Linked DNA regions of Homo sapiens: regions 2 and 3 are each linked to region 1. Evidence: fine-mapped expression QTL. A gene starts in region 1. Each other region holds a variant in brackets. All regions are shown on one strand. Distances are between the middles of the regions.

Region 1 (8,200 bases):
GTGTAAATGGGTGAAGGAGATCACTTGTGTGTTACCATTTGTCATGTGTGTGTTTGTGTGTGTGAAAGAGAGAGAAAAGGGGAGGGGGATGGCCTCCCAGCCCAGAAGTCATTACTAATTCCTCCAGCATCCCCCACTTCTGGGCAACAGAGGCCCTTTTGTTCACAGTGGCAGAGGCAGTGATGTCCCTTCTCTCTTGAGGCCCCTGGCAAGTTCTCAGCCCTGAGCCTGGTCAACAAAAGGTCCTGTGAGCTTTTGCATTGAGCCCGGCCACTTGCAGAGTGTGCTGAGGACATCAGTGAGGGCACGGGACCTGTGACAACCACAGTGGCTTGGCCAGCGATGGAGGAGCCAGGGGCTTAGAGAGGGCCTTCTTGAGGATAATGTTGTTACAAGATAATTATGGGAAAAAAGGGAAAACCATGACTGTCCTACAGATCTAAAAATGAACACATGGGGCGGACATGATGGCTCGTGCCTGTAATCAGCATTCTGGGAGGCCGAGGTAGGAGGGTTGCATGAGCCCAAGAGTTTGAGACCAGCCTGGGCAACATAGTGAGACCTCATATCTATTCTTATTTTTATTTATTTTTAGTTTTCATTTTTTCTTGAGATGGAGTCTCCCTCTGTCACCCAGGCTGGAGTGCAGTGGCATGATCTCAGCTCACTGCAACCTCTGCCTCCTGGGTTCAAGCGATTCTCGAGCCTCAGCCTCCTGAGTAGCTGGGACAACAGACATGCACCACTAGGTCCGGCTAATTTTTTTTTTTTTTTTTTTTTTTTAGTTTTAGTAGAGATGGGGTTTTGCCATGTTACCAGGCTGGTCTTGAACTCCTGGCCTCGAGTGATTTGCCCGCCTTGGCCTTCTGAAGTGCTGGGATTACAGGCGTGAGCCACCACGCCTGGCTCCATCTCTATTTTTTTTTTTTTTTTTTTTGAGACGGAGTCTCGCTCTGTCACCCAGGCTAGAATGCAGTGGCGCGATCTCTGCTCACTGCAGGCTCCACCTCCCGGGCTGACGCCGTTCTCCGGCCTCAGCCTCCGGAGTAACTGGGACTACAGGTGCCCGCTACCATGCCTGGCTAATTTTTGTATTTTCAGTAGAGACGAGGATTCACCATGTTGGCCAGGCTGGTCTCGAACTCCTGACCTCGTGATCCACCCACCTTGGCCTCCCAAAGTGCTGGGATTACAGGCGTGAGCCACCGCGCCCAGCCTGAATGATGTTGTTATGGGTTGAATTGGGTCCACTCCCAAAATTGGCATATTGAAGTCTTAACCCACCGTACTTTAGAATGTGACCTTACCTGGAAGTAGGGTCGTTGCAGATATAATCAGTTGGGGTCATACTGGAGTAGGATGGTCCCTAAACCATCATGACTGGTGTCCTTAAAAAATTCGGAAATTTGAGCCTGGAGAGGTAGCTCATGCCTGTAATCTCTGCTCTTGGGGAGGCCGAGACAGGAACATCACTTAAGCCCAGGAGTTTGAGAGCAGCCTGGACAACATAGCAAGACCTTGTCTCTACAAAATATTTTAAAAAATTGGCTGGGGCCGGGCCCGGTTCTCAAAGCCTGTAATTCCAGCACTTTGGGAGGCCGAGGTGAGCAGATCACTTGAGGTCTGGAGTTGGAGACCAGTGTGGCCAACATGATGAAAGCCTGTCTCTACTAAAAATACAAAAATTAGCTGGGCATGGTGGCGCATGCCTGTAGCTCCAGCTTGGGAGGCTGAGGCAGGAGAATTGCTTGAACCTGGGAGGCAGAGGTTGCAGTGAGCCGAGATTGTGCCACTGCACTCCAGCCTGGGCAACAGAGTGAGACTCCGTCTCAAAAAACAAACAAACAAACAAACAAAAAAATATATATGGTATGTATATATTTATTTTGTATATATATTTTTGTGTATATACATATCTATATATATAATTTGTATTTATAGAGATGGGGTCTCACTATGTTGCCCAGGCAGAGGTTTGAGTTTTTGTTGAGGGCTCTGGGAGTCACAGAAGATAGCTCTATTTGTGGGTCATTCACTTTTTGCCCAGCCCTGTGTTGCTTTACATGCACTTGCTCATTAAATCCTCCCAAGATCAGGGGGATCAGACTGAGGTGGGTGGAGTCGACTTGAACTTTGCTTAGGGTTCTAAGAGGTAAAGACTAGGGGATCTGGGGACAGGGAAATCCCAGATAGAGTTAACCTTTTTTTTTTTTTTTTTTTTTTTTTGATACAGTCTCGCTCTGTCGCCCAGGCTGGAGCGCAGTGGTGCAATCTCAGCTCACTGCCTTCTGTCTCCTGGGTTCAAGTGATTCTCCTGCCTCAGCCTCCCAAGTAGCTGGGATTACAGGCGTGCACCACCACATTGGGATAATTTTTGTATTTTTAGTAGAGACAGGGTTTCACCATGATGGCCAGGCTGGTCTTGAACTCCTGAGCTCAGGTGATCTGCCTGCCTCGGCCTCCCAAAGTGCTGGGATTACAGGTGTGAGCCACCTCATCAGGCTGAGTTTATTGAGTTATCCCCGTGTGCCAGTCAGAGCTCTAGTTCTTCCTACCTGTATAAACTCGCTTACTGCTCACATCAACCATCTAATGGAAGTGCTGTTTTCATGTTGTTTCCTGCCCTTTGTCTCTACCTGCCAGATCACTCCCATGAAGGAAGGGACTTTGTTTATTTATTCATTGCTGTATCCCTGGAAACTGGGACTGCAGGTGGTTATGAAGTACCTATTTGTTAAATGAGTGAACATTTCCTGTAGGCAATTACACCCAACTTCCAAATGGAGAAACAGGCTCAGAGATAAGCCCCTGCACCCTCACTCCTCAACTCAACTGCCTGTTTCTAGCACTTTCCATGACGATCCCCTCTGCACGGAGAGGGTTCATGGGGAGTGACTATTGTTCTGTAATGAATGACCAGGCTGTGCCAGGTCCGGCAGTAGGCCTTTTCCTTTTCCTTTTTTTTTTTTTTTTGAGATGGAGTTGAGTTTTGCTCTTGTCGCCCAAACAGGAGTGCAATGGCGTGATCTTGGCTCACTGCAACCTGTACCTCCTGGGTTCAAGTGATTCTCCTGCCTCAGCCTCCCGAAGAGCTGGGACTACAGGCATGCGCCACCACGCCTGGCTAATTTTCATATTTTTAGTAGCGACGGGGTTTTGCCATGTTGTCCAGGCTGGTCTCGAACTCCTGACTTCAGGTGATCCACCCACCCTGGCCTCCCAAAGTGCTGGGATTTCAGGTGTGACCCACTGTGCCTGGCCAGGCCTTTTCCTTTCTTTCTTTTTTCGAGACAGTGTCTTACTCTGTTGTCCAGGCTGGGGTGGCAGTGGCACAATCACGGCTCACTGCAGCCCCAAACTCCTGGGCTAAAGTGATCCTTCCACCTCAGCCTCCCCAGTAACTGGGAGTACAGGTACATGCCACCACACGGACTAATTTTAAAAGTTTTTGTAGAGATGGGGTCTTGCTATGTTGCCCCAGCTGGTCTCAGACTCTTGGGCTCAAGCAGTCCTCCTGCCTCGGCCTCCCAAAGCATTGGGATTACAGGTATGTGCCACCGTGCCCAGCCGCAGCAGGCCTTTTGTTTTTTTAGAGAGGGTCTTGCTTGGTGGCCTAAGCTGGAGTGCAGTGGTGCAATCACGGCTCACAGCAGCTTCCAAACTCCTGCGCTCAAGCGAGCCTCCTGCCTAAGCCTCTCAAGTAGCCTGGGACTGTAGGCACACACCACCACGCCCGGCTGATTTATTATCTATTTATTTATTTGAGGTGGAGCCTCGCTCTGTCACCCAGGCTGGAGTGCATTGGCCTGATCTTGGCTCACTGCAACCTCCGCCTCCCAGGTTCAAGTAATTCTCCTGCCTCAGCCTTCCGAGTAGCTGGGACTACAGGCACGCGCCACCACGCCCATCTAATTTTTGTATTTTTAATAGAGACGGGGTTCCTCCATGTTGGCCAGGCTGGTCTTGAACTCCTGACCTCAAGTGATCCGCCCGCCTCGGCCTTCCAAAGTGTTGGGATTACAGGCGTGAGCCAACGCACCCAGCCACTAATGTATTATTATTATTATTCTGTAGAGACGCAGTCTGGCTATGTTGCCCAGGCTGGTCTTGAATTCCTGCCTCTGCCTCCCAAAGCGCTGGGGTTACAGGCGTGAGCCACCGCGCCCTGCGGCTGCAGGTCTTTATAAGGCAACTGTGGGCCCTGGACCGCTCCCTGAAAACCTCCCCCTCAACTCCCTGTCTCCTCCCTCACCTGGTCTACCCCGAATCCTTCCCCTCTCGCCCCCTCGCCCTCTCCAGGGGAGGTGAGGGACTCAAGAATCGCGCCCTGCTTCTGTCCCCACCGCGCCGTCCCCAAGCCCACGCAGTGAAAAGACCACCCTTGAGGCTGATTCCGGGTCCAGCTGGGAGCGGCCAGCCGTAAATCACCGCCCCCGTGGGCCGTACCATTCTGGCCGGGGGGACCTGGGAGGGGACGCGCGGAGGGCTTCCCCCGGGGACTGCCTGTATCGAGACTCTCTCCAGCCCAACAGGAGGATGGGAAGGAGACTTGTGTGGGGGCCTCGGGCTGGCGGGTCGCGGGTTCCTTATCCTCCGCCTTGGCGCCTCTCCGCCCACCGCCCACCGCCCCTCCCTGGCATTGGTTGGCGCCAGGGGAAGCCGAGGCTCCATCCTTTCTGCGCAGGTTCCCGCCGCACTCGCGCAGACCTAGCGCGTCCAGGTGGGAGGTTAGTGTGGCCCGGGCGTCCGCTCCTCAGCGGATGTGGCAGCCCCGAGCCATGGCTCTCGCCGTCCGAGTCGTTTATTGGTAAGCCCAGCGGCCAGCGGCCCCCGTCCCCGACCCCCGCCGGGACCCGATTCTCGGAGCCGGGGTCAGGGAGCCCCGGGGAGAGGACCCATGGGAGCCCTTGTATGGGAAAAGGGAGCCCCTGTATGTGGGTGGGGTGGGCGTACGGAGGGGCGAAAAACAGAGGGCGGTCGTCCCTAGGCCCCGTCTTCGACTTGTGACACGCTGGGCATCTCGGGTTATAAAAGGTGGGGCTGAGACGAGTGTGTGTCAATTTCGAACCCCCGACTCCGGGGCTCCGCTGGGGAAGGGGCTGGGGGTCAGCTTTGTAAAGGGACCTAAGGCTCCTCCACCCTAAGGCTTCCCCTCCCCCAATATCCCGAACAGTCGCGGGGTGGGGACAGTGAGAGCCCAGAAGGTTCGAGAATGTCTCAGCCTGTGTTTCAGAAGCACTTGAATTGTTGGCCTCTGCCCAGTGGGTTCCCTTGGCCACGAACCCCACTCCTTTTCTGGCCTCAGTTTTCCGTCTGTGGCAAGAGGGAGGCTCTGTGTCAATACCGAACACGCTTAATTTCTGCAAGTCTCAGGAAGGGTATAATAGGATAGGATATAAATTACGTTCTCTCCACTCCCCAGCACCTAATACTGTGTGGCATGCTGTAGGTATTTAATAAATACGTGTTCAATGAATTTATCCTCCCAGGAATCCCTTAAGAGAGGGGAATTTTAGGCCAGGTGCCGTTGATCACGCCTGTAATCCAAACACTGGGAGGCTGAGGCGGGTGGATCGCTTGAGCCCAAGAGTTCGAGACCAGCCTGGGCAACCCAGGGAGACCCCCCCCTCGTCTCTACAGAAACTTAAAAAGTTAGCCGGGCATGGTGGCGCACTCCTGTAGTCGCAGCTGCTTGGGAGGCTGAGGCAGGAGGATCACTGGAGCCCGGAAGGCGGAAGTTGCAGTGAGCTGAAATCGTGCCACTGCACTCCATCCTGGACAGCAGAGCGAGACTCTGTCTCAAAAAAAAAAAGTAAATTAAAGAGAGGAATTTTAGTTCTATGTTACAGGTGAGAAAACTGAGGCTGGGACTGGGGTGGGGGCAGGTCAGTAGCTTCAAGTCTGGACTGCAGGTGACAGGGGTAACTGGAACCTGGGTTTGTCGGCAGCTTTCCAACGTCTCTGCCTGCTCGACAAAGCAGAGGCAAGAGTGACATTTTGAGACGCCTACCAGGCCTGTACACCAGATTCCAGTCCCGAAATAGCCTGCTGTGGGGGTTGGGTGAGCCTGTATTTCACCCTGGGGACTGGGAAGGTGTTCAGAATCTAGGAGCTGCGGGGCCGGGTGCGGTGGCTCCTGCCTGTAATCTCAGCACTTTGGGAGGCTGGGGCGGGCCGATCCCCTGAGGTTAGGAGTTCGAGACCAGCCTGGCCAACATGGTGAAAATACAAAAATTAGCTGGGCGTGGTGTAAGAATCCAGGAGCCGCAGGGTTTTCCTTGGAGTGCTGCGAGGGCTGTGGGTGAGGGTGGTGGGCACAGGGAGTGGGTGGGGACCTTACGTGTGCTGTTCTTCTCCTAATCCAGTTCTCCTGGTTTTCCCCCGTCCCCGTCTCTCGTATTTGTGGTCTCCTTGTCTCCTCTCTCCCCTTTTTCCCCTCCCCCTTCTCTGTCTCTTGCTTGGTGTTGGTTTTCTGTGTGTCTCTGTGTGTCCCCGCGCCACCCCCTGTGCTGTGTCCCAAAACTCTGCCTGGCTGGTGCCTGTCTTCTCTCTTGAGGGCATCTGTCACCTCTTCTGCTTGGTCATCTGTGTTCCTCTTTATTTCTTCCTGGCCCCATCTTGCTCTCTCCCCACACCGCCTGTGTCTACCCTCCTCTCCCCGATCCCCCACTTCTCCCTCTCTCCCCTGGGCCCCAATGTCTTGGACTCTCCTACCAGTGGCGCTTGAGGCTACAAGTCCAAGGTAAGCAGAGTGGATGCCCGGGGGGCATTCCTGGGAGCTGGGGAGGGGTAGAGTGCATATTGGGAGGGGGCTGACTGGTATGACCCCTGCTGTGACCTCTCACCGCGTTTTCAGTATCTTCAGCTCAAGAAGAAGTTAGAAGATGAGTTCCCCGGCCGCCTGGACATCGTGAGTCTTGGGATGGGGAGAAAGACTTGAGCACAGCCACTGTGTCGGTCCGTTAGGCCTGGATGGCACTGCAGGGGGGTTAGGTCAGCCCTACGCCCTTCACCCATGTTCTCATCCCCCTGGGAAGGGGAGGGTCTCCCCAAGAGGACATCTTAGCCCCTCCAACATCTCCCCTACCCCCTTTCCTCAGTGCGGCGAGGGAACTCCCCAGGCCACCGGGTTCTTTGAAGTGATGGTAGCCGGGAAGTTGATTCACTCTAAGAAGGTATGTCTGTCTGTCCGTCCTGCCTGGTTTTGGGGCTAGCATGGGGTTGGGGCTGAGGTTGGTGTCTCGGTCCCAGCTCACCCCTTCCCTCTTCCTCCCCTCCCTAGAAAGGCGATGGCTACGTGGACACAGAAAGCAAGTTTCTGAAGTTGGTGGCCGCCATCAAAGCCGCCTTGGCTCAGGGCTAATGCGCCCTGAAGGCAGAGGTGAGGGGGCCCACTAGACAGGGACACCACCCTTTGGATCTTCTCCCTGCCCCATGCTCTGACTCCTTGGCCCAGGGTGGAGAGCCTGGGAGATGGGGGGGACATCACGTGTGTCCCCAGAGCGAGCGGGATAAAGTTAGACCCGGTTGGTGGAGGACAACAACTGAGATGGGGTCAGAGGTGTGCAGGGTGACAGCTGAGATGGTGATGGGTCAGAGATATGCAGGATGACAGCTGAGATGGGGTCAAAGGTATGCAGGATGACAGCTGAGATGGTGATGGGTCAGAGGTGTGCAGGATGACAGCTGAGATGGTGATGGGTCAAAGGTATGCAGGATGACGGCTGAGATGGTGATGGGTCAGAGGTGTGCAGGATGACGGCTGAGATGCTGATGAGTCAGAGGTGTGCAGGATGATGGCTGAGATGGTGATGGGTCAGAGGTGTGCAGGATGACGGCTGAGATGGTGATGGGTCAGAGATGTGCAGGATGACAGCTGAGATGGGGTCAGAGGTGTGCAGGATGACAGCTGAGATAGGGTCAGAGGTATGCAGGATGACAGCTGAGATGGGGTATGCAAGATGACAGCTGAGTTGGTGGTGGGGTCAGAGGGCTGCCCTAAAACAGCTCTCCTGGTTTGGGAATGAAAAGTGCTAGCAACCCAACGGTTCAGAATCCGGAACTCTAGGTCTTTGTCCCATTGCCAAGAAACAGTTCCCAACCCAGCAGGTCATGTGACAGCGTCCGGCCAAGTTCCCAGCATGTTTTGAGACAGAATTTCCTTGCTCCACAATTTCGAGTAGGTCACTAATTATCACCG
Region 2 (8,200 bases), 280 kb before region 1:
CCTTGAAGAAGTAGTCTTTGGCGCTGTACTTGAGGAGGGGGCTGTCCATGGCATTGGTCCCCACCTGTAGCCATGGAGAAGTGGCACTGGTGAGCTCAGGGCAAGCAGCCAGAGGGCCAGAGCCACTGCCAGGCACTGGGGGGCCAGCTGGGAGCTGGTTCATGTCCCGAGGTGAGGCCCTGTTAACCCAGGACCCCAAGGGCAGGGAGCCAGGGACCAGCTTGGAGAGGTCAGCGGCCAGTGCGTGAGCGACCAAGATCAGGGTGTGATGGTGGCTGGGTGGGGGTGGAGGCTGTAGCCAGGTGTTCGTGGGCCTTCTGAGAGCCTGAGACAGTGGGAAGGAGGCAGCCTGGCTGTCAGGACCAACGGGAGGCTGGCATGGCGGTGGGCAGAGCGGCGGCAGGCGGTGGGAACATGAGAGGCGGCGCCCGCCCCTCTCTCCCAGGGGGCCAGCTGCCTGCCTTTTTCTCGGCCATCACCCAGGGCTCCGTGCACGCTGGGGGGACCCCATGTGACACTCCCTCCCTCCCACTGTGGATGAGGACCATCGGGCCATGGGGTGGGGTGCCCACGGCCACCCTGGGCCTCTTGGCACTTCTTCCCATTCCCTCCCTCTGGGTTCTTTAGCCAGCCTCACTCTGGGCCCCTCCAGGAAGCTCTGCGAGGGGTGTGGGAGGGGCACAGCCAGGGAGAGAGACGGTGCTGGCACGGCATGGAGTCGTAGGTGGAGAACATTCAGCCAGGCTGAAGACAGGGTGGGGGGATGACATGGCAAGGGATGTCGGGGGAGAGGCAGAGGGTGAGCCGGGGGAGGGGTGGTTCCAGAACAAGGTGCCGGGGCTTAGGAGGAGGCACAGGCCCTGAGAGGGGGCAGGGTGGAAGCCGCCATCCCCACCTGTCCCCACCTGTTCGTAGATGTCAATGGCCTTCTGATACTGCTCCAGCAGCGCAGCGTAACCAGCCACCTTCAGCAGACACTTGTTGGCTGAGCTGTGTGGGGAGGAGTAGTGAGGGGAAGTGGTGGCGGTCCCTGCGGGGCTGGGGCAGGCAGGAAGGGGGCTACCTGTTGGACTCCTCGCCTTTGTAGTAGTCTGCAGACTGCTCGTAGTGGGCAATGGCCTGGGGAGACACGGGGGATGGGTTCCAGGGGAGGGCAGGGAAGGGAGAGGAGGCCTCCGTGAAGCTTCCACACCCTCCGCCCTGCCTGCCTGGGACACAGCCAGACCCCATTCTCCAAGCTCTGCCGGCGCCCCATGCCCCCTTCTCGGCACTCAGACACCAGAGGACTCCCCTGGTGGGAAGAAGAGAGAGCAGCACTGGTCCTGGCTGCCAGCCCATGCAGGGCCCTGCTGCCACTCACCTTCTCGATGTCCACCAACTCTGTCTCATAGATCTCAGCAATGGAGATGTGGTGCTTGGCCGCAATCGTGAATCGGCCCTGGAGGGGACACAGGAAGGGGCTGCCTGCGACTCATGACCTCCTGCGTGCCTGCCTGCTGACCTATGACCCTTCAAGTTCCCACCCCTCAGCCACGCCTGTGAGGAGGTATGAAGAAGACCTGAGGTGTGAAGAAGATCGAGAGGTGGGGGAACACAGGAGTGAGAAGGGAGGGCCCCAGCACTAGAGGCCTGGCTATGCGTGCTGGGCTGAGCGGGTGATGTTGGACAAGCCACTCCAGGGCCTTAGCCTAATTCCATCCCATCCACGAGGGCACAGATGGTGTGACACCAGAGAGAATGTGAGCACGAGCACTTGGCCAAGGCCCTGGCCCTTAGGAAGCCTCTGATAACAGCCAGAGAGGCGGAAGGACCAGTCCAGAGCCACTTGGCAAAGGGCTCTGGAGAAACCAGGATGGGAGGGAGGGCTTGAGACCTCTGCCCAAGAGTACCAGCTCTGCCCCCAGGCCAACACCTATCTGTCAGCCTCCCCCAGGCACACCCAGAGCTCCCCAGGGAGGCCTCAGGTTCCAAGGGGCCTCGCACCTTCCATCCGCCTCCACCCAGTGTCCAGGCGCTTGCCTAACTGCTCTGCACCAGGGGCTGGTCCAACGCCACCCCCTTGCTGAGGGCAGTAGGAAAGGGCAAGGCCCTGGGCTCAGCCAGACCTTGTTTCGGGTCTCAGTGACTCCTGCTTGTAGCCACATGTCCCTGGGCAAATCATGTCACTTGTCTGAGCCCCTCTCCTCCACTAAGGAACGGGGATGACAATAATGCCAACCTCACAGGGCTGTGGATTAAACCACCCTGCAGTGTCTGGCCTAATAAATGGCAGCTGCTATTATTGTTCTAATCACAGTCATCCCTGCAGCACTGCCCTGAACGCAAGGGGTAGGGCTCGTGTCCCTGCCTGGGGTTGGAGGGCTGAGACAGACAGGGCAAGCGGAGAGGCAAAAAGGAGCTGGCCAGGCACGGTGGCTCATGCCTGCAATCCCAGCACTTTGGGAGGCCAAGGCAGGTGGATCACTTGAGGTCAGGAGTCTGAGACCAGCCTGGCCAACATGGTGAAACCACATCTCTACTGAAAATACAAAAATTAGCCAGGCATGGTAGCACACGCCTGTAATCCCAGCTACTCGAGAGGCTAGGGCACGAGAATCGCTTGAACCTGGGAGGCAGAGGTTGCAGTGAGTGGAGATCACGCCACTGAACTCCAGCCTAGATGAGAGAGAAACTCTGTCTCAAAAAAAAAAAAAAAAAAAAAAAGAGAGAGAGAGAAAGCACTGACAGGAGCCCCGGCCTGGGTGGGACCCTTCACTCTGGCTCCAGTTGGCAGCTGCCCATCTGGTCTGCATCTGTCGTTGGCAACGCGCCCTGGGGGCAGGGCAGGTGCTGAGCCTCCTGTGGGCTCTGCCTATCCCTGTGGCCTGCTGCAAGATGCTTATCAAATGTGACACTTGCGGGAAGGCTGGGCAAGGGGAAGTGCCGGACACACACTCTCCAGTAACCTAATTTCTTTTTTTGTTTTGAGACAGGGTCTTGTTTTGTCGCCTACGCTGGAGTGCAGTGGTGTGATCACAGCTCACTGCAGCCTCAACTTCCTGGACTCAAGCGATTTTCCTGCCTCAACCTCCCAAGAACTAGGACCCCAGGTGCATGCCACTACACCAGGCTAATTTGTTGTAGAGAGGAGGTCTTGCTATGTTGCCCAGGCTGGTCTCGAACTCCTGTGCCCAAAAGATCCTCCCACCTCAGCCTCCCAACATGCCAGGATTACAGGCATGAGCCACCCTGCCCAGCTCAATAACCTAAGTTCTATGAATGAAAACCATGACTGCCTGTGGAGTGAGGGGGCCGTCAGGCTGGTGGGGAGCTGGGTGAAGACCCAGCCAGCCCAGGCCAGCTCAGGTGACCTAATCCCCCCAGCTCCCACTTCCCCCTCCCCAAGTGGTTTGGCCGCAGAATAAGAACAGTGCTGGGGGTGCTGAAAGAGGGGACGCAAGGCTGGGGCAATGCAGTGGGACCCGGGGGTGTCAGGACAAGCAAGCAGCCCTTACCATGTCTGTGTAGATCTCGATTGCTCGCATCAAACAGTTAATGGCCTCTGGAGAGAAAGGGAGGTGGGAGGAGACATGAGAAAGTGAAGTCGTTTCAGCAGAAGCTGAGGAGAGGAGGCGGACGCAGGCGCACCTGGCTGCCAGCAGAGAGATCAATAGGCGCTCAGAGCTGCCAGCGCTGCCACACACTCTCAAGGGGCTGGGAAGAAGGGGACGGAATCCCTGAGCCCCAGGAAATCTGGTGAGAGGGCTGACTCTGCAGACTGTGACTTGCTGGGCACATGCTTCTGGGGGAGCCCTTCTCTCCTCGGGCTGCCAGGATGCTACCAGCTTCCCACAACCCCAGGGACAGGGCACAGCAGTGCTAGGCCAGGATGATGGCCAGACTCCCACGGTGTTTTAAGACAGACCT[G/A]CCAAGGCCCTGCTCTTGAAGGACTGAGCTGCTGGCAAAGGGGAAGGAGGCATGGGAGGCGGCCAAACCAGCATCTGAGGTGGTCTTGGAGGCAACAGGGTGCCAGGTTCTACCTGGGCTCTGCCACCATCTCTGCAGGATCCTGAGCAGCTTCTGCTCCTGCACCAGGAGGACCTGGACCTCTGGCACGAGGAGGCTGGATGTCATCAACACTGAGCCCTCAGTGTGCTCTCCACTGCCCCCTCTTCCTCGTAGCTCAGCAGTCGGGAGCCCTCTGCTCAGTCCCTTTAACCTAGTCCTGCCACCCACCAGCTCCTCAAAGGTTTTGCCAAAAAACCTGAACACACCAGGATGGCACTGAGGAAGAACTGGGCTACCTTTGTTGTACTATCTCTTGCAAGATTTTAAATTTGGGAAAGGCTTTTTTTTGACAAGTTATTTGGAGGAGAGAGAAAAGCATGAGTGGGAGGCATTTTCTAGCAGACAGAAATGAGCTCTCAGGGGGTATTTTTTAAGAACACCATTTTAGCACATCTCAGGAGGACAGGGGTGTTGTGGGGAGGGAGGCCTGGGTTGGGGAGAGGGAAAGGCAGGGAGCTTGGACAGGCCACAGGGCATGGGCTCTGAGCTTCAGCCTGGGCATCTGAAAGTTCCTGGTCACCGTGGGGGTCTCCATGGTCACCCAGGCCATGTTCGCCTGAGAAGAGGGTGCTACCAAGAAGCGCCGGGGCTGGGCTCCTCTCAAGGGGCTCACGGTCTGGATGGGACTCCAAACTCCCTCCGTGGGGAGGCATCTGGACAGAGGCTCTTTGTCTCAGGTCTGTGGCTGGGCTTTCAGGGAGTCCAACCCCTCCTTCTGACATGTAAACAGTGGGGTCCATAAGCACTCCTCTGGGGAGTGGGGTCTGTAGGTTTTGTCCAATTCAGAAAGACCTCTGGGGATCTAAAAGGGACTGAGAGAAGGTACAGCACTCAGTCCAGGTTCTAGGGCTGACAGACCGAGACTGTGGCAGCAGACAGTGGAAACGGTGGCAAAAAGGGGGCAGATGAGGAGGAAGGGGAGAGAACACAACCTAAATCCGGCAGTTTGAAGACACATACATCCTGTAATCGGCGGACCCAGAAGCAACGGCTAAGCCGGGCCACGCTGCAGAGGAGAGCAGCAGCTGGAGTGAGGTGAGAGGCCCGCCTTGCCCCGCCCCACCTGGCTGCAGTCTCCACATGGAGGCCCCGGGCTGCTCACTGGTTCACTCTCCTGGCCGGAACACCCAGGACACCAACCTGGCACCCTGTGGGCTGAGGCGGCAAAGGCTGCTGCTCCGCAGTGAGCAGTGAGATCTGCAGCTGCCACCTGGGCCTGCTGGCACTGGCTCTGGAGCACCCGCCGTCAGCATGGCACAGTCCTTGCAGTAGCAGCAGGGAGACAGCTTACCCCCCAGGCAGCAACATGGACTCACGGGGTTAAGTCCCCTCCATGTCTGGAAAGCGGCGGGCCACCAGCAGACACCTGGGACAGCTGGCTCCTGGACGAGCTTCTGACACACTCATGACTGCTACTCTTATCTCAGGTCACCAGGCCTTGTGCACTCGGACAGGCAGAGCAACACCCAGTTCTGTGGCCTGGCCCCTCCTGTACCCACCCACAGAGGGCTGGAAAGGGGCTCAGAGCAATACAGCCCAAGTTGGGGAGCTATGGCCCAGGCCACCGCCCATCCCCGCAGTCACTCCTACCAGCGACGCCCAACCTGACTTCTGCGTCTCTGAAGCCCTTCCTGGTTACACTTGGTCATCTCCTCCTTAGTAAAATGGGGGCAAATCACAGAATGCACAAAGAAATCAAATGGGTTAAAAGATGCCAAGCATCTGGTACACAGTAGAAACCCAGTAAATGGCAGCTGGGGAGGAAGTGGGGGACAAGCAGGGGCCAGGTCGCTTCTCTGCCCCAGGTACACACACTGCCCCCACCCCCAACTATCAGGCAGGCCTGGGAAGAGGCCTCGCTGGCCCGAGTCTGCCCTGAGCAGCAGCCATGGTTGGGTAACTGAGGAACCAATAACACATATGAGCATCACCCTTCCCCACCCAGAGCCACCAAGGTGGCAGCAGGCCACCCTCTGCGAGAGGGAGAGGAATTCGGGAGCCCAGTCGGGCCTCAGGCACACTCCAGCTGCCACTTGGGGGCAGGTCCTTCTGGAGGGAGTCCTGGAGGAAGCCCTAGAAGTGCTGACCCAAGACAGAGGCCTTCTAGGCTGCTGAGGAGACCAGTGATGAGGACGGCCCCAGGGTACCGGCCACCTGCTTGGGGAAGCCAGGCAAGGTTCCAAATCGGGCCTCCAGCGCTGTCTCACAAGGCACCCGGCCAAGGGCAGAGGCTGTGGGGAGCCCAGGGCAGGCAGGGGCCCCTGGACTGATGAAAGCCAAGGGTGTCCTGACTGGAAGTTTATCACACACCAGGTGCCGCGCTGGGCATGACTGCATCATCTCACAGCAGTCTCTGCTTTAACAGACGAGGAAACAGAGGCCCAAAAGACTGACTTGCCCAGGATCACAGGGGAGGCAGGGTCCTCCCAGACCACCCACCACCTGCGCTGCTGAGCCACACACAGTTGCTACATGACATTCTCTGTGAGGCTTTTTTTTGGGGACAGGATCTCACTATGTTGTCCAGACTGGTCTTGAACTCCTGGGCTTGAGCGATCCTCCTGCCTCAGCCTCCCAAAGCACTGAAATTACAGGCATGAGCCACTGCACCTGGCCTTGTGTGAGGCCTGACTAGCCTCAGACACAAAGCAGCCACTGCCCTTGATGCCAATGTGCCCCTTGCCCCACTGGGAGTCATGGCTGGCGTGCGTATCTTTAGGCTGTAGCTCTGGAAGCTGCACTAACACCCTTCCCTGCTCAACACCACGTCCCCAGGGCTCTGGACACGGCACCTGCTCTCAGCTCTACCCAGGTGAGGCTCTCCTTTCAGAACTGCCCCCTTTCTTCCTTGAAAGATCTCCCATAGCCAAATTCACGCCCCCAGCCTCAGCTCTGTGCAAGTTGGCCTCTGTGCCCTGGATGTAACATCATCTTTATACTTTCCTACCGGTCGGAGTCCTCAGCCACCTTCTGAGCTTCCTAAGGCCAGGGAGGGGCCACATCCAGACTCCAGGCCCACACCCTGCAGAGTCTCGCTGGAGAGCTAGAAAAGCTCAGATCAAACGCAGGGGAGGGACCCCACCATATCCCACTGCCAGGCAGGGCCTGTCTGCAGGAAGTGAGGGGTCTGCTGAAAGAGCAAATGGCACTCTCTGTTCGGCAGCCTGGCGCTCAGTGTTGCCCCAGAGTGTCCTTCCAGTCACTCCAGATGGGGCAGCAGCTGAACGTCACAGATGCTAAGACAGCACCTCTAGGCCAACCAGTTTCCCAGGGAGCAGAAGGAAAGGCTTGGCGGGGCAGTTTAATGGAAGGCATGGAGACTCCATGTGGTGAATCAAGCTTAAAACCAACCCAGGGTCTCCCTGGGTCATCACTGCATCAACCACGCAGCCTGCTGTGGCCCAGTGCTACCAGCCAGGCAAGCCCCATGGCCCACCCAGTTACAAGGCTGCTCCTCGGCCTCTTGCCAGGCCTGAGCCCCACCATGTGACCACTGAGGCCAACGCATGAGATGCCCAGCTGCTGAGGAGCAACTGGTCAGTCTAAGGACAGAGAAGAGCTACTGGTCAACACAAATTCATCCTCATCTGGGAACTAACACGTCAGATCACGACAAAGGGGTATGCCAGCAGTTCTCAAACACGCCATGTGAACCAGTGCTCACTGATCCATGGAGGAAGCTCCCTGCACTGCTGCAAACCTGTCTTCTCTTGGGAAGGACAGGCTTTTATTCCAAGATTATATAGCTGCTTTTTATTTTTTAAAGATTCATATATTTTCCATTCCCCTGAGATGACAGTGACAATAGATGGTCATTTTTAAAAACTGCCTGTGCTTTCTAATTAGCAACCTGTACCTGGCACCAACATTTTAAAAAATAAATTAAAATTCCCGCCACATGCAAGCAAACACTGGGCTGGACCTCCTCTTCGGGAGGCACCCAGGGGGACAAAACTGTTTTCTCACCATGAGTCAGCCCCAAACTGGGTTTCTGTCCCTAGCACGCTCTCATTTTAAGTAATTTGTTCTCTGGCAACTACATCTCGGGCTCTGTTCTCTCTAATTCCTCCCCAGGATGTAGGGAAGCCAGGTTGGGCTAATTTCCGCTCCTTTTTCGGCAGCAACTCCTACCTGGCTGGTCTCAGAATCCTCC
Region 3 (8,113 bases), 27 kb before region 1:
AGGCAAATATCTGCGGAAACAGGTCAACCTTAATATAAACAAGGGGACCTCAAATGGGCAGAAAGCAAGCTGGAGACGAACTTAGAGAAGGCAGGTTTTTCTTTTGAGATGTCAGTGATCTCCATGCACAGATAAGCTGCTGGGAGTCTGCCTTGATGAATAAGTTAGAAACACATTAAAGGATCTCTTTTTAGCTTGCAGAAAAGCAAGTCAAGGACCTGCTTAACTCAGTCCTGCCGGTTGCGGTGAGTCACGCCTGTATTCCCAGTACTTTGGGAGGCTCAGGCAGGCAGATCACCTGAGGTCAGGAGTTCGAGACCAGCCTGGCCAAGATGGTGAAACCCCGTCTCTGCTAAAAATACAAAAATTAGCCAGTTGTGGTGGCGGGCACCTGTAATCCCAGCTACTTGGGAGGCTGAGGCAGGAGAATCACTTGAACCTGGGAGGTGGAGGTTGCAGTGAGCCGAGATCGCGCCGCTGAACTCCAGCCTGGGATTACTATTATTTTTTTGAGACAGTGTTGCGCTGTCATCCAGGCTGGAGTACAGTGGTGTGATCTCAGTTCAAGCGATTCTCCTGCCTCAGCCTCCCAAGTAGCTGGGACTGCAGGCTGCACCATCAAGCCTGGCTAATTTCTTTTCTTTTCTCTCTCTCTTTTTTTTTTTTTTTTTTTTTTTTTGAGATGGAGTTTCAAGCCCAGGCTGGAGTGCAATGGCGTGATCTCAGCTCACCGCAACCTCCACCTCCCAGGTTCAAGCGATTCTCCTGCCTCAGCCTCCTGAGTAGCTGGGGTTACAGGCATGTGCCACCATGCCCGGCTAATTTTGTATTTTTAGTAGAGATGGGGTTTCTCTATGTTGGTCAGGCTGGTCTCGAACTCCTGACCTCAGGTGATCCGCCCGCCTCGGCCTCCCAAAGTGCTGGGATTACAGGCATGAGCCACCACGCCTGGTCAAGCCTGGCTAATTTCTGTATTTTTAGTAGAGATGGGTCTTCATCATGTCAGCTAGGCTGGTCTCAAACTCCTGACCTCAGGTGATCCACCCGCCTTGGCCTCCCAAAGTGCTGGGGTTATAGGCGTGAGCCGCTGCGCCTGGCCAAGATGAGCTTTAATAGGAATAAGAGGACTTGCTTTAGTGAGCGGGTAACACACGTCTTAACTTGCTTGCCTTAAGTTGCTAGAATGTAGGGTGGGGATCTGCTGAAACAAGATGAGGCGTGAGGGAGGGATTGCTCTGGTGAGTAATAGTGTTTACTTCAATATGTAGAAAAACAAACTAAGAACAGATGATCTGCTCTAATGAACAGCCTGGAAGCAAGCGAAGGGGTCTGCTTTAATGAGCAAGAGAGTGAGCTTGTGTGAGATCAGTCAAAGGGTATGTTTTAATGAAAATGAGCGGACCTGGTTCAGTGACCAGATAGAGTGGAAGGAGCTGCCCTGAGGTACAGGAGACTTCCAATAGGCAGGTAAAAAGTGGTTATTAGAGTCTGGGTGCAGTGGCCTACACCTGTAAGCCCAGCGCTTTGGGAGGCCGAGGTGGGGCGGATCACTTGAGGTCAGGGGTTGGAGACCAGCCTGGGCAGCATGGCGAAACCCCGTCTCTACTAAAAATACAAAAACTAGCCGGACGTCATGGTACACGCATGTAATCCCAGCTACTGAGAAGCGCTTGAACCCGGGAGGCAGAGGTTGCAGTGAGCCAAGATCATACCACTGCACTCCAGCCTGGGCGACAGAGCAAGACTCTGTCTCAAGCTGGGCGTGGTGGCTCACGCCTGTAATCCCAGCACTTTGGGAGGCTGATGCGGGTGGATCACCTGAGGTCGGGAGTTTGAGACCAGCCTGACCAACATGGAGAAACCCCGTCTTTACTAAGAGTACAAAATTAGCCGAGCGTGGTGGCGCATGCCTGTAATTCCAGCTACTCAGGAGGCTGAGGCAGGATTGTTGCTTGAACCTGGGAGGCAGAGGTTGCAGTGAGCCAAGAGCGCATCATTGCACTCCGCTCCAGCCTGGGTTACAAGACTCTGTCTCAAAAAAAAAAAAAAGTGGGGGGTTATTAGAGAAGTCAGCCTTGACCGAAGTGAGTTGATCTGGTGTGTGAGTGTAAAGGGTAAGTCAGTGACCTGCCCGTAATGAACAGATGGGAAAGTAGTTACCGGCGTGCTTTGGCGAGTGGGAAGCCTCTTTGGGGGGCAGGAAAGAGGCAGTTTATGGGTTCCACTTTAGTAAGGAAACACGGACAAAGATCATAGTGGTTGTGAGCAGTCAACCAGGTCAGCCCCTGTGCTTTGTGGGCCTTAAATGATTACATCTTCATAACGGCCTAGTGAGGGAGGTATCCACATCCTCATTTTGGGGGCACGGAGGAGCTAAGCCTCTTGTGTGAGGTCCCACAGTCCATGCAAGGGTGTTATTCCATTCTAGAGTGTTTTGCTGTAGAGTTACTGCTTTTAACTGTTAGGCTTTTGAAGTAAAAACCACAGGTATCTTTGTGGGAGGAAAAAGACAGTAAAAACCAGAGAACTAGAAGTTATGCTGAGAAGTGGCCATCCTGGGTCCCAAGTCCACTTCTGTGGCCCTCCCTGGGCTTCAGTGTCAACTGATGACTTGCTTTCTTCCTTTTTTTTTTCCCCCTGAGATGAGATCTCACTATGTTGCTCAGGCTGGCATCAAACTCCTGGGCTCAAGCGATCCTCCCACCTCAGCCTCCCAGAGTGCTGGGATTACAGGCGTGAGCCACCATGCAGGGAAGAGGTTCCCTGTTTGTCTGGAAGACCCTCCTATGTGGCTGTGGGCGTGACTCTTCGTGTCCCCAGCATGGGGCCTGCCTCCTGCTGGCCCAGCACTTGGTTGTGGAGGGTCAGAGCTTGGGCACCTTGGGCCCCATCCTTAGGGGCCTCTACCTCCAGGTAGGAGCCTGGGGACCTCCAAGTCTCCTGGGGTGACTTGGGATTCAGGTCTGATGGCTCCCATGGAGGTGAATAGGGTGGGTGGTCTTTGGCAGTGGGTAGGGCTGAGGCCTTGACTTGTTCTCTTTCCCATTCTTAGGGCTGACAAAGAAGAGAACCAAAGTCCAGAAGAAGTCACTGCTTCTCAAGAAACCCCTTCGGGTTGACCTCATCCTCGAGAACACATCCAAAGTCCCTGCCCCCAAAGAGTGAGTGTCCCAGCATCCCTGGGCCCTTCTTTCCCACCAGACTCTGGTCCTAAAGGGTTTCCGGGGCT[G/C]GGGGCTGGTAGGTGAGGGTCATTTGAAGGGTAGGGCAGGCTCAGGTTTGGGCTTCGGAGTGCAGATTAGAGGGAGGGAGTCTGGGTGCCCTGGTGCTGGGCCGAGGCAGGTGAGGAGGGGCCTGGACCCAGCTGGGGGCTTCGGGGTTGGAGAGGAGGGGCTGAGTGGGAGGCGTGTTCAGGAGGCACATCAGGTGGGTCTTGGGGCATGAGCGGGTGAGAGGGTGGACAGCTGGCCTTCCCCTGAGATGGGGATGTGGAGGAGTGGGATTTCGGGTGATGCTGAGGTTGGTTTTGACGTGGTGGTGTGAGGTGCCTGGGGTATGTCCAGGACGGGGCTGTTGCTTCGTTGAGTCTGGGGCTCAGAGGGGAGGCCTAGGCTGGAGACAGACGTGGGGAGAGGAGTTCTCTGAAGAGGGGGCGGAGTGCCACCTTTTGGAGAGGGGGTGCTGAAGCTGCCTTAATGGTGGAGGAAGCCCGACGGGGAGGAGGCCCTGCTGCCGTTCAGGCTGCCACCTCACCTGCTGCACTTGTGCCCCCTCTCCCCGACCAGCGTCCTCGCCCACCAGGTCCCCAACGCCAAGAAGCTCAGGCGGAAGGAGCAGCTATGGGAGAAGCTGGCCAAGCAGGGCGAGCTGCCCCGGGAGGTGCGCAGGGCCCAGGCCCGGCTCCTCAACCCTTCTGCAACAAGGGCCAAGCCCGGGCCCCAGGACACCGTAGAGCGGCCCTTCTACGACCTCTGGGCCTCAGACAGTGAGTGATCCTGCTGTCACCTATGAATGGGGACAGGACGGCCATGTGCAGTTTGTGTGTGTTGTGCACTGCACGAGAGTACAGTGTGAAAGGGAGTGCTTTGTGGGTGCTTTGGTGACCTCCCAGCAGAGTCGTGCGTCCTGAAGGGGCGGCCGTTTCCCACTCGTGCTTTTCCTTTCCTGAGTTGTGAGGCTTCAGGAAAGGAAGCCTTCAGCTTTGGTCTCTTCCACTTTCTGAACCCGTCCAGACACAGTTTTGTCCTGGTGATCAAGGCCCTTGGGGTCTAGAATCAGTCCTTCCCTTGCCTGAGCTTCAGGGTCACCTTTTTGAAATGTGGAGGGATTGGGGGGGAGCCTTTGGTGCCTCTTCCATGCTGGGACTGTCCCAGCAGCTCCCCTCGCTGTATCCACAGACCCCCTGGACAGGCCGTTGGTTGGCCAGGATGAGTTTTTCCTGGAGCAGACCAAGAAGAAAGGAGTGAAGGTGAGATGTGTGGGAAGGGCATCCTGGGTGATGGGAGGGTGAGGAGGGCCGGGAGCTGCTCTGTGTTCCTGCAGTAGAGTCTGTCTCAGAGCCCTTCCATCCCAGTGGCCGAGAACTCTGTGCTGGAGCCAGGTGGCTGGGATTCCTGTCCCAGCTCCAGTGCTGACTGATCCTGGGAAGGTGGTCTCACCTTTCTGCAACCTATATCTTCCTCTAAAATGCAGATGAGGGCCGGGCATGGTGGCTCACGCCTGTAATCCCAGCACTTCGGGAGGCCGAGACAGGTGGATCACCTGAGGTCGGGAGTTTGAGACCAGCCTGACCAACGTGGTGAAACCCTGTCTCTACTAAAAATACAAAAAAAAAATTAGCTGGGCTTGGTGGCACGTGCCTGTAGTCCCAGCTATTAGGGAGGCTGAGGCAGGAGAATCGCTTGGACCAGGGAGGTGGAGGTGGCAGTGAGCCGAGATCATGCCACTGCACTCCAGCCTGGGCAACAAGAGCGAAACTCTGTCTCAAAAAAAAAAATAAAATAAAATACAGATGAAATTGTACTTAGATCATGGGTCGGTGGGGAGAATGTAAAGAGGTAGCACATGAGAAGGTGGAGCCCGTGCTGGCAAGTGGCAGAAGTGTCACGGGTTTGAGTTTGGATTTGCAGCCTCCTTCTTGAGCTGCTGGACCCCAAGTGTTAGAGCCCAGGTGCTTACAATCTCCGGGGCTCAGCCTCGTGGGTAGCAGAGGATAGGCTGCTATCCTTTTTCTGAGATGGAGTCTTGCTCTGGAGTCACCTGAATGCCCCTTGAGCTCTTCCCACACCCAACCACTGGCAAGGCCTGGAGCATCTGCCCCATGGCTGTGTCCTGGGTCACCCGCAGCCCCAACGCACGGCCTTACCCTGCCTCGGCCTTTTCTCCACAGCGGCCAGCACGCCTGCACACCAAGCCGTCCCAGGCACCCGCCGTGGAGGTGGCGCCTGCCGGAGCTTCCTACAATCCATCCTTTGAAGACCACCAGGTACACTGCCCCGTCCAGGCCTCCCTCCTCAGTGGGCTCTGCCTCTTGGTCAGGCCTTCACTAGCTTCCTCCCTGTGCTGGGAACTCCAATGACCCAGACAGCCCTGGGCCTGTCCGCAACGGGGCTCACGGTCCAGTGCAAGAGACCTGTTCCCAGACAGTGATGGGCAGAGTGGTTGGGGCTGGGAGCCCAGACGGGGCACCTGGCCCAGCCTGGGGGGTCAGGAAGGGCTCCCGGGAGGAGGGGTCGCCTGAGCCGAGGCAGAGGCTGAGGGAGGGGTTTGCAGTGGGAGGAGGGGAGTGGGTTTTCCAGGTGGTGGGAACAGCACTGCAAAGGCACAGAGTTGAGAGAGACCGTGGCGCCTTCCAGGAAGCCTGTGGGGCAGAGATGAAAAAGGCTGTGGTGACACGGTGGCACACTGGCAGCCAAGTGACAGTTATATATGGGCGAGGCTAGCTCAGCGATGGGAAAGTCTAGCTGGAGCCACTGTGCATTTAGCGGGCATCTGTTGAGCACAGATGCTGTGGACAAAGGGGACAAAAACCCCTCCCTTGGCCGGGTGCGGTGCCTCACACCTGTAATCCCAGCACTTTGGGAGGCTGAGGCGGGCAGATCATTGGAGGTCAGGAGTTGGAGACCAGCCTGACCAACATGGTGAAACCCTGTCTCTACTAAATACAGAAAATTAGCAGGGCATGGCAGCACGCATCTGTGGTCCCAACTGCTTGGGAGGCTGAGGTGGGAGGATTGCTTGAGCCCAGGAGGTCCAGGCTGCAGTGAGCTATGATCGCACCACGGCACTGCAGCCTGTGTAACAGAGCGAGACTCAAAAAACAAGCACAACCCTCCCTCAAGGAACAGCCCTTCTCATGGGGTCACGTGACTGGAGAGATGCTGAGATGTTTGCGGTAGATGCAGGACCGCTTGTCCGAATCGTTTTCAGCATTCATAAGAAGGAGATAGCTAGCCAGGAACAGAGGCAGCTTCCTCATCTGGTAGAGAAAAGTGTCTGCGGAAAAAAGCAACAGTGTGCTCATGGTTGAAAGCGTGAGGGTGCCGCTCACTGCCATCTGTTCCTGGACCAGATGTGGGAGGGGGCGTGGAGATCAGACATTCACTTTTAGATTTGTACAGAACTACTTCGTAGAGATAAAATTCACTTAACCATACGGTCAGCCTAGTTAGAGTATGTGATTCAGTGGCTTTTAGTGACCATTGTGTAACCATCCCCGCAGTCAATTTTAGAACATTTTCACTGTCCGTAAAGGAAACCTCACACATGTCAGCCATCACCCCCGCAATTCCCTGTCTCGTGTGGTCTTGGGCTGCCAGGCTTCCTGTCTCAGGGACCAGCCCACCCTGACCAATTCACATAGATGAAACTGTGGGCCGGGCATGGTGGCTCACACCTGTAATCCCAGCACTTTGGGAGGCCGAGGTAGGTGGACCACCTGAGGTCAGGAGTTCAAGACCAGCCTGACCAACATGGAGAAACCCCATCTCTACTAAAGTTACAGAATTAGCCGGGTATGGTGGCACATGCCTGTAATAGTAGCTACTCGGGAGGCTGAGGCAGGAGAATCGCTTGAACCCAGGAGGCGGGGGTTGTGGTGAGCTGAGATCACACCATTGCACTCCAGTCTGGGCAACAAGACAGAAACTCTATCTCAAAAAAAAAATGTGAAGCGTGCAGGTCAGACTGCCTTCACAGACGTGCAGAGCAGGTGTGAGGGCGAGGGTTTGAGGTGCCCTCTGGCTCTGTGCAGGGTGGGTGTGCTGGTAGACGGGGTGTGGGGAGGAAAGCCTGGGCCGGGGCGGGATCCACGGGCACTGGATGAGGGACAGATGGGAGGTAAGAGGGTCTAGTCTCAGTGTCCCAGGAGGGGTTCAGGGACCCATCCTCACTCCCGCCCCTCAGACCCTGCTCTCAGCGGCCCACGAGGTGGAGTTGCAGCGGCAGAAGGAGGCGGAGAAGCTGGAGCGGCAGCTGGCCCTGCCCGCCACGGAGCAGGCCGCCACCCAGGTGAGCCCCGCACCTGCCCACTCCCTCCCCTCCCCGGGCCTCCTACCCACCCCTGACACTGCACCCCGCCTCCCCAGGAGTCCACATTCCAGGAGCTGTGCGAGGGGCTGCTGGAGGAGTCGGATGGTGAGGGGGAGCCAGGCCAGGGCGAGGGGCCGGAGGCTGGGGATGCCGAGGTCTGTCCCACGCCCGCCCGCCTGGCCACCACAGAGAAGAAGACGGAGCAGCAGCGGCGGCGGGAGAAGGCTGTGCACAGGCTGGTGAGCGCCTGGGCCAGCGGGGCCTGCCTCTGATGCCTCGCCCCCTTCCTTCCTTCCTCCCACCATGGGCTGCCCTGGGTGCTGCGGGCAGCCTGCACACCCCAAGCCCCGCATGTGGCCTGTGGTTTGGGCTGTTTGGGATCCTCACAGCTGAGACTCATTTCCCAGCCTCTTCCAGGCAGGGCTCGGGCTGGGGTGGGACAGGGTCCCTGGCGCTTCTGTTTGAGGGGCGGGGTGGGGGGAGGTTTCTGCACCGCAGACCAGGGGAGATGGATGACAAAAGGGGCTTCAGCAAACAGCTGCTGGGAAGGCACTGGAGGGGCCGCTGATGTGACGGGGTTAGGAAG

What was found. PIP is the estimated chance that this variant, and not a neighbour inherited with it, causes the effect.
Region 2: its variant is fine-mapped to the expression of SELENOW in whole blood (INTERVAL, PIP above 0.99).
Region 3: its variant is fine-mapped to the expression of SELENOW in whole blood (INTERVAL, PIP above 0.99).

What each region holds. Positions count from the first base shown.
Region 1 is chr19:47,774,008-47,782,207 of GRCh38, forward strand. It overlaps SELENOW (selenoprotein W), which reads left to right and starts at 4,696. Exons shown (of 6, transcript NM_003009.4): 1 at 4,696-4,807; 2 at 6,718-6,742; 3 at 6,857-6,910; 4 at 7,101-7,175; 5 at 7,283-7,381. The coding sequence starts at 4,779. The coding sequence ends at 7,363. RefSeq lists silencers at 4,584-4,843, 4,854-4,993 and an enhancer at 7,061-7,646.
Region 2 is chr19:47,492,056-47,500,255 of GRCh38, forward strand. It overlaps NAPA (NSF attachment protein alpha), which reads right to left. Exons shown (of 11, transcript NM_003827.4): 4 at 3,495-3,541; 5 at 1,361-1,438; 6 at 1,064-1,119; 7 at 906-990; 8 at 1-64. It overlaps NAPA-AS1 (NAPA antisense RNA 1), which reads left to right. Exons shown (of 4, transcript NR_038452.1): 2 at 1,392-1,546; 3 at 2,973-3,089. Among named protein-coding and RNA genes, the nearest start is that of NAPA-AS1, 12 kb to the left of the region's middle. The variant G/A (reference allele first, on the strand shown) is at 3,907.
Region 3 is chr19:47,747,126-47,755,238 of GRCh38, forward strand. NOP53 (NOP53 ribosome biogenesis factor) reads left to right here. Exons shown (of 13, transcript NM_015710.5): 3 at 3,053-3,161; 4 at 3,783-3,982; 5 at 4,395-4,465; 6 at 5,387-5,482; 7 at 7,402-7,506; 8 at 7,584-7,766. Among named protein-coding and RNA genes, the nearest start is that of SNORD23, 4.7 kb to the right of the region's middle. The variant G/C (reference allele first, on the strand shown) is at 3,230.